Homo sapiens: one gene and its partner. The protein of the gene in region 1 interacts with the protein of each later gene in a pairwise test. Each region holds a gene or a part of one and is shown in the gene's direction. Other genes may lie near its edges.

Region 1 (8,264 bases):
TGGTATATAAATATATATATATCTGTCACTTACCGATGAGGTAAATTTTGGGACATACTTTCAAAGGAATATTCTACAGTCACTAAAATGAAAAAGGAAGCTTTATTTGTACTACTATGAGAAAGTATCCAAGATATAGCATTAGAAAAAAAAAAGATGCAGAAAGTATGCTGCTACCACTTAATTTAGGAACTAATGAATATGTGTGTACATTATTAGCTCCCTCTGGAAAAATAAAAAATATACTAGTATCCTGGTCATACCAGGAATGGAACTGAATAGTTAAGGTGAGAAATGAGAGGGTAACTCTACATCATATATGTCTTCAACATTTTATGTAAATTCATCATGTATTCAAAAATGGATAAATACAATTATTCAAATTAAAAATTGAAATCATAATACATGGATGGCAGAGGTCCCACAACAGGATGAAAGTAATTAATATTACTAGAAATAGCATAAGTCTGCTCAACAGGAAACATCTTCTCTTTGGAACAGAGAACTAGAAAGGGCACAAAACATGCATCCTAATTTTGTTTTTATTATGGCCTTTCAACAAGATTTCAAAGTTTATCCCCAAATATATGGTCAAATACAACGTTCCCTGGGTTGTCAACTAGTATTCTCTTGACTGAGGGCCCTTTTGCAGGGGACAAAGACTTCTTAAAACAACCCTGCTTCCTCACCTTCTATCCTTTGTCTACCAAATCCTGCTCATCCTTAAGATGTCCTGGTTCCTGACTTTCTGAGGCTTGGTGAGATGCCCCTTTTGGGTTGCCATGGCACCAACTTGTTACTCCTACCATTGAACTTTTTATATAACTGTGAAATTAAAAATGCTTATTTACTTCTCTCTACCACCTCTTGATCTCAGGCGCTTCATTTTCCTCATCAACTTATCTTTAGTTCCAACTACAAAAGCCAGCACAGAGGCTCAAGTTTGGGTTGATTAAATACATATTCTACCCTCCAGTAGGTCCCCAATTTACCATATCTTTACTGTATTCCCAATCTCTAGAGCTCTCAACATAAAATATACAATCTTAGGAAGTCATGCAGAAAAGACTCACTGAGTCAGAAAGAATATGCCCAGTTGTCTTAATCTGCCACCCTGTTCTCTCTGAGGGACTGGACACTCCATTGACTTTATGTTCCTCAAGCTTATTGTTACCAGTGGAGGGTGTCCAGGTTCTTGGTATCTTGAACAAAGGATTGGACAAAACACACAAAGAAAGGAAAGAATGAAGCAACAAAAGCAGATATTTATTGAAAATGGAAGTACACTCCACAGTGTGGGAGTGGGCCCAAGCATAGGGGCTCAAGGGTCCTGTTACAGAATTTTGGGGGATTTAAATACCCTCTAGAGGTTTCCATTGGTTACTTTGTGTATGCCCTATGTAAATGGAGATAATATTTCCCGGCATAGCTGAAGTGTGAATAGGCCTTATGTTCTATGCCTCCAGATCCTATTTTCCTGCCTCATTTCCTCCCTGAGAGATGTCATCCCCATAAATCTTTATGGGAGGTGGAGTGACTAATGGTCTTTCTTCTGTAACTGCCTCATGCTGGCTTGAAGCAAAGTCCCTACCTATTGGGGATCACGGAACTGTCACCCTGCTCTGTCTAGTGGAGGCAGAGTAGCTTCTTGATGGCCAGGGGTGGTGTCTTCAACTGGAACTGGCTGGAACATTTGTCACATGATCTTCTGAAGCTTGATGGTCTCTAGGTGAGAGAAAGTGAATTTGGTTAAAAGATTTAACTGGAACTTCAGGAGGTGGATACCTATGCTGTTAAGAATGCTCGTTACAGACATTTGCAAGAGGAAAAACAAAACCTGGTTATTCAATTAATTTTTTTGTTCTACTTAGATTAGTAGCTTTATACAAGGAAATTTGGTTATTTATGTGGTCTACTATAACTTAATATAATAACTATAATTATAATTGACAGCATGTACTTAGACATTAAAAATTTTAGAAATCTCATACAATTTTGGGACATATATTAGCATTATTCACAAAAATATAACCTAAAGATTGAACAACATTTTGGCAATACTATGTACCTAAACATGTTAAATAATCCTGTTTACCTCTTCTCTGGGTGATTCAGGGGCCCCCTGATCCTTCCAAAAAGCCAGGCATCGGGAAAGACAATTTTGAAACTGAAGTTTGATTTTGGGAAGGCTGTTAAATATGTTCGGAGTTTAAAACACTTGATACTATGAAATAGAATTCCAGATTACCATGAATGATGTATTTTGCCAAAAGGTTGACTCAGAAATATTAAAGAAGCAAAAGCCTTTTATAACCCTTTACAAATTTTGCCGAAGAGCAAATTAGTGCCTTAAGAAAACCTTATTGTACTTTTAATGCTCAGTTTACAGAAAAACAATATAATACCTTTCTGAATTTAGTCAATATGTTCACACAGAGAATTTCTTTTGCAAGATTTTTAGAAACCTTCCACCACTTATTTGAACTTTTAGCTTTATCTTAATTTAAAACAATTGTTTAACCCTAGGCAATAATTTACTTTTCCATACCTTCTTATAACGTTTTACAAAAAAAAAAAAAACACATTCTATTCTTCTTATACAATTTGCATGTAAAACTATTTTAGTAGTCTCAATTACATGTAATAATGGTGACTGTTAGTCATTTTAATTTTAATTTTAATGTCTTTTCTTATTCATGTTTTATAAAATAATTTTTTGAGAGAGACTGTCAGTCTGTCACCCAGGCTGAAGTGCAGTGGTGCTATCTCGGCTCACTGCAACCTCTGCCTCCCAGGTTCAAGCGATTCTCCTGCTTCAGCTTCCCTAGTAGCTGGGAGTACAGGCATGTACCACCACACCTGGCTAATTTTTTTGTATTTTTGCAGAGTCGGGGTTTCACTGTGTTGACCAGGCTGGTCTCAAGCTCCTGACCTCAAGTGATCCACCCACCTCAGTCTCCCAAAGTGCTGGGATTACAGGTGTGAGCCACCTCGCCCAGCATTTACACTGCACTATTTTTAGCTGGTTTATATATAACATGTTTCCCTAGGATCAATGCCATCCTGTTTTCCCATTAGAGAATTGACAACACAATTTGCTGGTACATCCTCAAATTTGCTATACCTTCCTTGTATTCTTCATCCTATGCTCACCTTGGAAATGTGGTAGCCATTTGCTTATCTAAAAGAATATTAAAATTTATCTCCCTTGGAAGAAATGGCTATAGACAGGATAGGCACCGGGCTTAAGCTCCCAAAGTGTCAGGAAGCCTGGGTCTCTGTCTTTCTGGATATTTCCATTTCAAAAGGCATGGAGCCCAGACTCTTGAAGACATCTCTGGGTTGTAAAGCTGGCACTGATATTTAGCCCCTAGAAAGCTCTATTTGTATTCAAAAGGTTAAAGAAAGGACTCTGGCCCACTTGTCTCTAAAGAAACACTCTAAAAACAAGCTGGGGTCTGGCATGGTGGCTCACACCTGTAATTCCAACACCTTGGGAGGCTGAGGCGGGTGGATCACCTGAGATTGGGAGTTCGACATCAGCCTGACCAACATAGAGAAACTCCATCTCTACTAAAAATACAAAATTAGCCGGGCTTGGTGGCTCATGCCTGTAATCCTAGCTACTCAGGAGGCTGAGACAGGAGAATCGCTTGAACCCAGGAGGTGGAGGTTGCAGTGAGCGAAGATTGTACCATTGCACTCCAGCCTGGGCAACAAGAGAGAAACTCTGTCTCAAAAAAAAAAAACACAAGTTGGGAAAGTGGGATCTTTTTTTCTTATAAATTTATGTACCCTTAAATTATACATGATTCACAAAGATTCAATTTTGCCTGGGGCTATTTTTTGTTTGCATGATATAAACAATAGATTTTATTACTTAGAAGCAGGTGATTTCCTAGCAATAGTTCTGTTTTGAAATAACCCTGCCTTACTTTCACTTTAAATCTCATCAATATTCACACACACACAGAGAAGTCTTACTCTCTGCTCTCCATTTCTCTCTCTCTCTTCCCCGCTTCCCACCTTCCTCTCTTTTAGAGACAATGTGCAGTAGAGAATCAATGTGGTTTTAACCAAATGGATTTTCAAGTTTGAATCTCGCTCAATTACTTGCTACCTTGGTGTGTAGCTCAATGGCTTTAGTTAGACATATTAATTACCCGTTTTCTGATTATTTTTCCCCCTTGGACAATGGGGATAATAAACAACCTTTATCTTGAGGTATTTTGATATTTAAAATGGTATGTGTAAAGAATATGGCCTAGAATGGAACTGATAAGGAGAAAACATTGTTATTGTACACTCAGCAAACACAGAGGTATTTTAATGAAGTGACTGACAGCAAGACTTCTTGGGCCCAAATCTTATTTAGTAGCTCTGTAATTGTAATAAATTATTAAATCCCTCTTTTAACATTGTGGTAAAAGTATTTGTGATAAGAATACAATGGGATAATCTATGTAAACAAAACGGGTACTATCTTCATTATTATTTATTAAATGTTAAGTGCCAAGACCTGAGTTAGGTGCTAATAATTCAAACATGTATAAGACGTGGACATTCCTTCAGGGCATTTAGAGTCCTCATTATTAAACACAAATAATGAGTTCCATTTTAAGAGTCTAATATTCAAGCCAATTGAACCTAAATAATATTATATTAAGCTTTCTTATTCCTGTACTTCTCAATGTGGCCCACAAACATGAGATGAATGTCATTATTTTAAACGATTCATTGAAGTTTTTTTAATAATCGCAAGCTGTCTCTAAGATCTCTTCCAATAATAAAATTGGAAGATTCTGTTTGAGAAATTATGTCAAATCCTCTCACTAGCACAGCTGTCAGCAATTTCTTTTATTGTTGCTAAATCATGGACTGTCATATTACTCTATTTATTTGCAGAGGTTGCATTGTTTTTTACATGTATAAATACAGGTCTCTAGAAAGTCTGGAAAGCCCCATGACATTGGAGAGGTAAGGTAAAAGTCCAAAGTTCCAGCAAGAAAAAAAGTGGGAGAAATCAGTGCAGCCAAATTCAGAACTAAAGAGAAGAGAATAAAGACTCATAACTTTCTCATTGAAGCTGCCTTCTTACCAAGTCCAGAGGATCTCTACTCTGGGTAAGACTATGACTTATAAGGATTTCATGATTTATAAGGATCCATTAGTTTTCTCTAAGTTGACCATCCCCAAGATAGGCTGCAGCTGAGCCAGCTACAGGATACAAGTCCAGATGAAATCCTGGCCTCTTAGGTGGCTGTGTGTACCTTAGTGTGCTCTAATTCCTGCTGTGTCAGATTAGGCTTCAGCAGAGGTGGAACAGATATTCAGAGAAGCCAGTGTTCTAAGATTGTTATTTCTTTTCTGACACCATCTTAAATTACTGTTATCTTTAAATATCTGCCTAATAGGCTCTGTCACTTTCTTTATTGGGCCCAACATTTATAGCTCTAGGTAAATGAAGGTAGGCAACTTGGGATCTGCAAAAAGAGGCAACACATTATTATAATCCAGGACCTTATAACATCTTTGTGCCACCACCTTTCTGAGCCGGTGACTGATTGATTCCTATGTTATGGTAGCATAGTATATGCTACAGAATTGGACAGACGCATACTCTGTTTTCACTCATCTTCCATAGATACCCAATCTTTTTAGTTTCTGGTTTGCCCTTCTTGCTTGCCAGCAGATCCTGTAGGCCATTGCTATAAGAGGAAATGGGTCATGATCACAGAAAAATAAACGGCTTTTTTTCCATCTTCTGCTGAAGTGATGGGAAGCCAGATAATTTAATATAAACCTCCAGAGGAACAAGTCAGAAGTAACCAACTCTATAGTGGAAACAAACCACTCTTTATTATAGGATAAAAAAGAAAACTGCAGTATCTATCATCTATATTTGCTTGTATCTTAAAGAGATTATATATTTTGTATCATGATCACATAAGTTACAAGGATTGAGACATTCAACTTAAAAACACAAAATTAAAGCATCACTACAAGAAGGCTTTTCACTCCTTTTAACTTTACAAAATTATCAAAATATTTAATTTATCAAGCCCTGGATAAAGATAGCATGATTACAATTGTGCATATGCTACTCTCTATACAGCAGAGATCAGACAAAAAACAAGCCATGGTTTTTCAAAGAATGTTTCATGCTGTGACTTCATTACATGAAATAATTAAAAACAATATGCAGACTGATATACATGGAGGTAATAAAGAATCAATCTTCAAATGCAGAGAATTCAAAATCTGTTAACATAATCAAGTCAAAAATCAACAGAGTAAGTGTCAGGTGCGAGCTATCAGGCTTGCATGAATAACGTGTGAATGCTGATGCACAGTGAGAGGAGGAAGCCATTGGGTAACCTGAGTCCCACAGTCTGACCAGACCCTGCCCACAGAGGGGCTTGCAAGAAATCAGGACCAAGAATGGGTTAGAATGGTATCTATGTTTCAAAGTATAGAGATATGTATAACACAATGTTTCCCAGGTGAAGATTACTACTACTATATACATGAGCTCAGCGAGCTCAGCTTTGCTCAGTCCAAAGATCTAAATGTGAACGTGAAAAGCTTCCAAAGGAAATTTTGTAATTAATTCAGAAGAGCAAGCGGGGCACCTAGGAAAAATTCCATTTTCTAGAAAATGACATACAAGATGAGCTGGTGGGAATGCAACCTTGTACAACTTTCTGGAGAGGAACTTGGCAATATCTACAAAATTATATACTCTCATCTTTTGACCAAGCAATCCCGTTGGTAGGACTCTATCCTGAAATTACTCCTGTAACAATATAAAAATACACATGCATAACGTTAGCAGAGTTATTCATTGCAGCATTGTTTGTAATTGCAAAATATTTGAAACAATCTAAATGCCCATACATTGAAGAGTGATTGAATAAACTGGGGTATAATCCACATAAAGGAGTAGATACATGTTAAAAGGATTTTAAAAGCTTTCTATGAACAGATGTGGAGGGATTTCCAAATTTCTATATGATGTGATCTTCGTGTTAGAAAATGTGAAAAAGAAAATATGTACATTCTCATTTGAGAAAAGAAAATCCAAGAAGCGTAAACCAGAAACTAACAAGATTGGGTATCTATGGAGGATGGGTGGGAATGTGGTAGAAAGAATAGAAGACCACTGCAATGTGAGTGGAGTGGTAAGATGAAGGAAAAGTGACACTTCTCTGACTGTAACTTTTTGAAAAGCTCTGCATTTCAGAACCATGATGTTTCACAAACTCAAAAAATAAATCATACTTAAAATCAACCAAGATACCAAGATGTGAAGGAGGCCAAACTGAAACACAAACAGTAACAAATGTAACTAACTGTTTTACAAATGAATAATTTAACCATACTGAAGAAGGTGGAGAAGGAAAAAGCTAACCTAAGCAACTTTGGAATGCAATGTTTTGAGTGTGTATATAAGGCTAAAGACCAAAAGAACTGTACACTAATAATTTTCTATAGGAAGTAAATTTATTTTTCCACAGACTTATTATCAATTTTGAAACTACTATATGAATATACTAGGACTGAGCAAGGAAACAAATGTATTATGTGTTAGAAGACCAAAGTCTAGCTTACTTGGAGAAAATAGTTTAAAAAGGAAAGTCAAAAGCTTGAATAAGCTCAGATGTGTTGGATTGGAACTGGAAATATCAACAGAATCTCAAGCTTTATTATAGAAATGTACAGATAAAAATAAATATAGATGTGTCCTAGTATACATACATATATTTCTTAACTTTGCCCCTGAGTGGGTCTAGAAATAATGAACACACCTAGAGTGATATATTGGTGTCAAAGTACCATTATCCATTGAAAGAAACCAAAGATACTGGGAGAAATGTTAGATTCTAGGGATAAAGCAGGAAAAATACAGATATTTTTTCTAGAATACGTTGTGGAGCCAAAAAGGAAAGAAGCGCTGAAAATATGATGGAAGCATGTAAAAAAAAAATGGATCCAGCTTGAAGAAGCTCTCAATGACAAAATCTAGGACAAGTTGAGTAACAGAACAAATATTGACAGTAAAGTATTGAAACCCTCAGAATAAAACTAATATCTCTGAGTCTGCATTGATACAAGTAAATGATTAAATGAGCAAACAAAATAAATAAAGAAGGAACAGCCCTTGCTCACGGTAGAACTCCAGTTAATATAGAAAGAATGACTATAATAGAAAATCCTATTTAGTCAAACACCACAAAAAGAATCATCAATAAAAACTAAAAGTA
Region 2 (4,287 bases), on another chromosome or scaffold:
GATGTTACGGATGGGGGAAACTGAGCTTCCCCTAAAGGGGTCAGCGGGTACTAAGGACAGAGCTGAGCTGAAAATAAGTTCTTGGCTGGGCGCGGTGGCTCACGTCTGTAATCCCAGCACTTTGGGAAGCCAAGGCGGGTGGATCACCTGAGGTCAGGAGTTTGAGACCAGCCTGGCCAACGTGGTGAAACCCCAACTCTACTGAAAATACAAAAATTAGTCGGGCATGGTGGTGGGTGCCTGTAATCCCAGCTACTTGGGAGGTTGAGGCAGGAGAATCACTTGAACCCAGGAGGTGGAGGTTGCAGTGAGCCCAGGTTGTGCCAGTGTGGGCGACGGAGCGAGACTCAGTCTAAAAAAAAAAGAAAAAAGAGTTCTTGGCCAATTTGGAATCCTGGGCCCTCACCCTCAGATGGTCCAATGAGCCTTCCTGCACTTCACTCAGGCACACCCCGGCCCCACTTCACAGTTTGTATTTTATATATCTCCCACACTAATTATTCAATTTTTAAAATTTAATTTATAAAGAAACTCTATATCCCATTGTAAATGAAAAAAAGCAGTATCACTTGCCATAAATAGAGAGTAACAAAAATAAACACAACAAGCTGTACAATGGTATTAAAGCCTAGCTGGAGACTATTGTCTCCTCAAGCTCTGGGCTTCCTGCCTTCCCTTTCCGTTGATAAGGAAGCTTAGCAAATGTTAGAGAGACGTGAAAGACACAGTAGTACCAAACCAAGACTTGCTCCTGGGTGCAGTTCATAGAATTGAAAGGCCACTGCAAACCAGTCCTCTTCCGGGGTGACTTGATGACTTGATGGTGCTCAGTGCTGTGTTTGGGATGTGACTCAAATCCACTTATTTGTCAGCAGAGTCCCACACTCCTGGAAGCCCTGGCCCAGACGACCTGCTTTAGCTCCCGCAAGGTGTCTCAGATTGTCGTGTTGAGTAGGGAATGGAGGGGGTCACAGGTGCCCATGCCCAGGTGCAGCAGAGAGGGGGAGACCGGTCCCAGAGCAGCCCATCAGCCAGATGAGTCCCCCTGCGCCAGCCGTGGGCCTGTCGGGAATGCAGCTGACTGGGCCACTGCCACGTCAGGCACATTATCTGCAACAACTCCCACTTTGCAGATGAAGAAACTGAGGCACTACGAGTCAAGTCAGTTGCCTAGAGTCCCACAGTATAGCAACTGGCAAGGCCAGGCCCAGAGTCCAGGGCTCTCAGAGGCCCCAAGGGGGAGTCTAAGATAACACACAGGGCAGGAGGGGAGAGCAGTTTGTACTTCCTGCTGTGACCAGGTCAGAGTTTAGAGCATGAGAGGCCTGCAGGGGTGGGGTGCTGAGAGCAGGACGCATAGTGAGTTGTCTGGGACTTGGCTGCAGCTGGGTAAGATGCACTGCCTTCCTCCAGGACTCGGAGGGTTTGGGATGAAGGAGGGAGGGAGAAGGGGTGCCAGAGCCTCGACCTTGCTGAGTGCCCCGTTGGCCCCCTCCCTGCAGCAGTACTTCATCCTCCTCATCATCACGGACGGGGTCATCAGTGACATGGAGGAGACACGGCATGCCGTGGTGCAGGCTTCCAAGCTGCCCATGTCCATCATCATCGTGGGCGTGGGCAATGCGGACTTCGCTGCCATGGAGTTCCTGGATGGGGACAGCCGCATGCTGCGCTCCCACACGGGGGAGGAGGCAGCCCGCGATATTGTGCAGTTCGTTCCCTTTCGAGAGTTCCGCAACGTGAGTGTGGGCCTGGGCTGGGAGGGGGCGGTTACAGGATCCCAGCCACCATAGCTCATAATCAAGCTTGAGAGTCTTGGGGTTGTCTGGCCCAATCCTAGACTTCTCCACTCCATTGACTATGCTCTTCTGAGGGCCTGCCATGTGCCAGGCGCCGTGCCAGGCCTTGCCCCGGTGGTGGCCATTGTGATAGTGTGAGCACTTGCTTCCACAAACTGATGGAACATGGAGCCGTGGGCATCTAGCCTGAGGCTCTGGGGCAGGGCTTCCTGGAGGACCTGCCCTCTAGTGGGGTCTGATGAGAGGCTGGGGCTATCCATGTGGTGTAAAGTGCAGGAGGAGAGAGGGGTTTTCCTGATCATCACGCCCCAGCAAGCCCCCTCATTTTGTAGACGGAAAACAAGGCCTCCCAGTCATCTTAGGTTGACCTCCTCTCCCTAAAGCCCTCTGCCTGGGAGAATGGTGTCCCCAGCCTTGTTCCTGGAAGTGGCTCTGGCTTTATTTGCAGGTGATCCCAGATCTGCCCACAAGGAGGCCGGGGTTGGCCTCCTGATCACTGCCCTAGCAGCAGGGTCCATGAGGAGTCCCATAGGGGAGCAGTCTCTCCACTGTACCGCTGTACTGTAATGCCACCCCCATACTGCTGGCTGGGGGCTTAACCCAGCCTCAGCAAGAACTGCCCATGCTGGTTTGCACCCAGTGGCCCTCACCTCTCTTCCCAGCATCCTCTGGGGTTGCCTGCGATGGTTCTACTCCTTCCTCTGGAGCATTCGCTTCCTAAGGACAAACCCTGGGCATCGGTCACCCCTTCATGCACAGGTCGGTGACCGAGTACCTCCATGTGCCTGGCCTGTGGCTGGCTGTTCACTAGTGAACCATACTGTCAGGCCCATTTATTCCCGCCAAGAAGGTGCTCAGGAGATGTTTGCCGGACACATAGGTGCTTCCCGCAGACGGAGTCATCCTAACCCGTTACTCCCAAGCATCTCAAGTGCTCCAGGTAACACTTACACCTAACCTAAAGGAAGGCACTGCGATCAGGGGGAATTTCAGGCCTGGCCTGGGCTGAGATGAGGGATGCCACTTGCAGACAGCCCTGGCCCGCAGCCCTAATTTTGTCCTCAATGGACACCTGCTGTAGCAGCCCTCTGGGCATAGTGCCGCTCACAACTTCCGGTCATTAATCCTTATTCTCTCTCTTCCCCACCCCACCCTCCTCCACCCTGCAGGCAGCAAAAGAGACCTTGGCCAAAGCTGTGCTGGCGGAGCTGCCCCAACAAGTTGTGCAGTATTTCAAGCATAAAAACCTGCCCCCCACCAACTCGGAGCCCGCCTGAGCTCCAGTGCCCAGCAGCAGCATGTCAGCTGAGCCTCCTGCCCTCCCCCAGGAACATGCACGCTCACTCTGCTTCCTTGTGGGTGGCCTTTTTTTACCGATCCCCTTTTTTATTTTTTACAACCGGACCTCCACCCCCAACTTCCTCCAGCCCAGCTGGGCTTCCTTTGTTGGAGTCAACTGTTGATGCTTCCAGGCCAAACTGGCTTCCTCTCCTCCTCTCCCCACCTTTGCCATTCTTAAGTATTGAATGTACTTTGTATAATTTTAGTGGAATTGTTATTGAGAATAAAATTTTTACAATCATAACTGGCTTTTTCCAAGTAACTAGCTGCAGACTCTGATGAAAGAAACATGTCCTTGGTGCATACGTGTCGTAGCCTGCACCTAATTAATTCCTGCTGTTTTTTTAATACTGTGACTGTGTTCTATTTGTTATATGCTCAGGGTAACAAATGAGTTTCAGACGTCCCTGCGTCAGCTCCTTCCTCAGCAGGGACCTGACGGGCTCACTGATCTAAGAAAGGAAATGGAAAATGAAAATCCACCCCACAAGTCTAATAAGTTGGTGTAGTCACTTCTGCATGGGGACATGCATTCCAGATGATAACCTGTTAAATCACTGCCAGTTAACAGTGATAACCTGTTAAACTGGCACAGAACCTGGCACATTGTACAAACTCAATAAATATTCATGGATGAATAGAATGAATGTGCAGGCCCATACCAGTTTCTGACATATCCCTACCCCACAACTGGACAGCAGTCCCAGCCACCCATCTGCTCCTCCTTGGGTCTCCCGGGTGTTTGGGTTGGCCACCTAGAGGTCTGTGAAAGCCTCTCTGGCCTCAGGACCCAAAATGGGGCTGCTTCTGACCCTGCTGTTTCTTCCACATCCCCCTCTCTAGGCTCAGGCCCAGTTTTATGAAACCAGCCAGAGGACCCCTCTCTGAAAGTTCAGCCCCGCTCCCAGGTCCCTCCTTTATTCCACATAACACCTCTTTCTCCTTTATCCACCTGACTCCCGCTTGGACCTCCAGGTAAGCCCCCTGGACACGGGCTTCCGTGTAACCAGTAACAGCTAACCCTCCTATTAAGCACTTTGTTTCCAGCTCCGTGTTCAGTATTTTGCAGGCACTTTTTCTGAGACAGGGTCTCACTCTGTCCCACCCAGGCTGGAGTGCAGTGGTGTGATCTCGGCTCACTGCAGCC

The links.
Region 2: the proteins of GBP7 (region 1) and CPNE2 interact in binary tests that used the Homo sapiens proteins (3 or more experiments, as listed by UniProt).

Annotation. Positions count from the first base shown.
Region 1 is NC_000001.11:89,172,780-89,181,043, reverse strand, and holds the start of GBP7 (guanylate-binding protein 7), read left to right. Parts: upstream 1-5,040; 5' UTR 5,041-5,123; intron 5,124-8,264.
Region 2 is NC_000016.10:57,144,583-57,148,869, forward strand, and holds the end of CPNE2 (copine-2), read left to right. Parts: intron 1-1,502; coding exon 1,503-1,739; intron 1,740-2,968; coding exon 2,969-3,076; 3' UTR 3,077-3,787; downstream 3,788-4,287.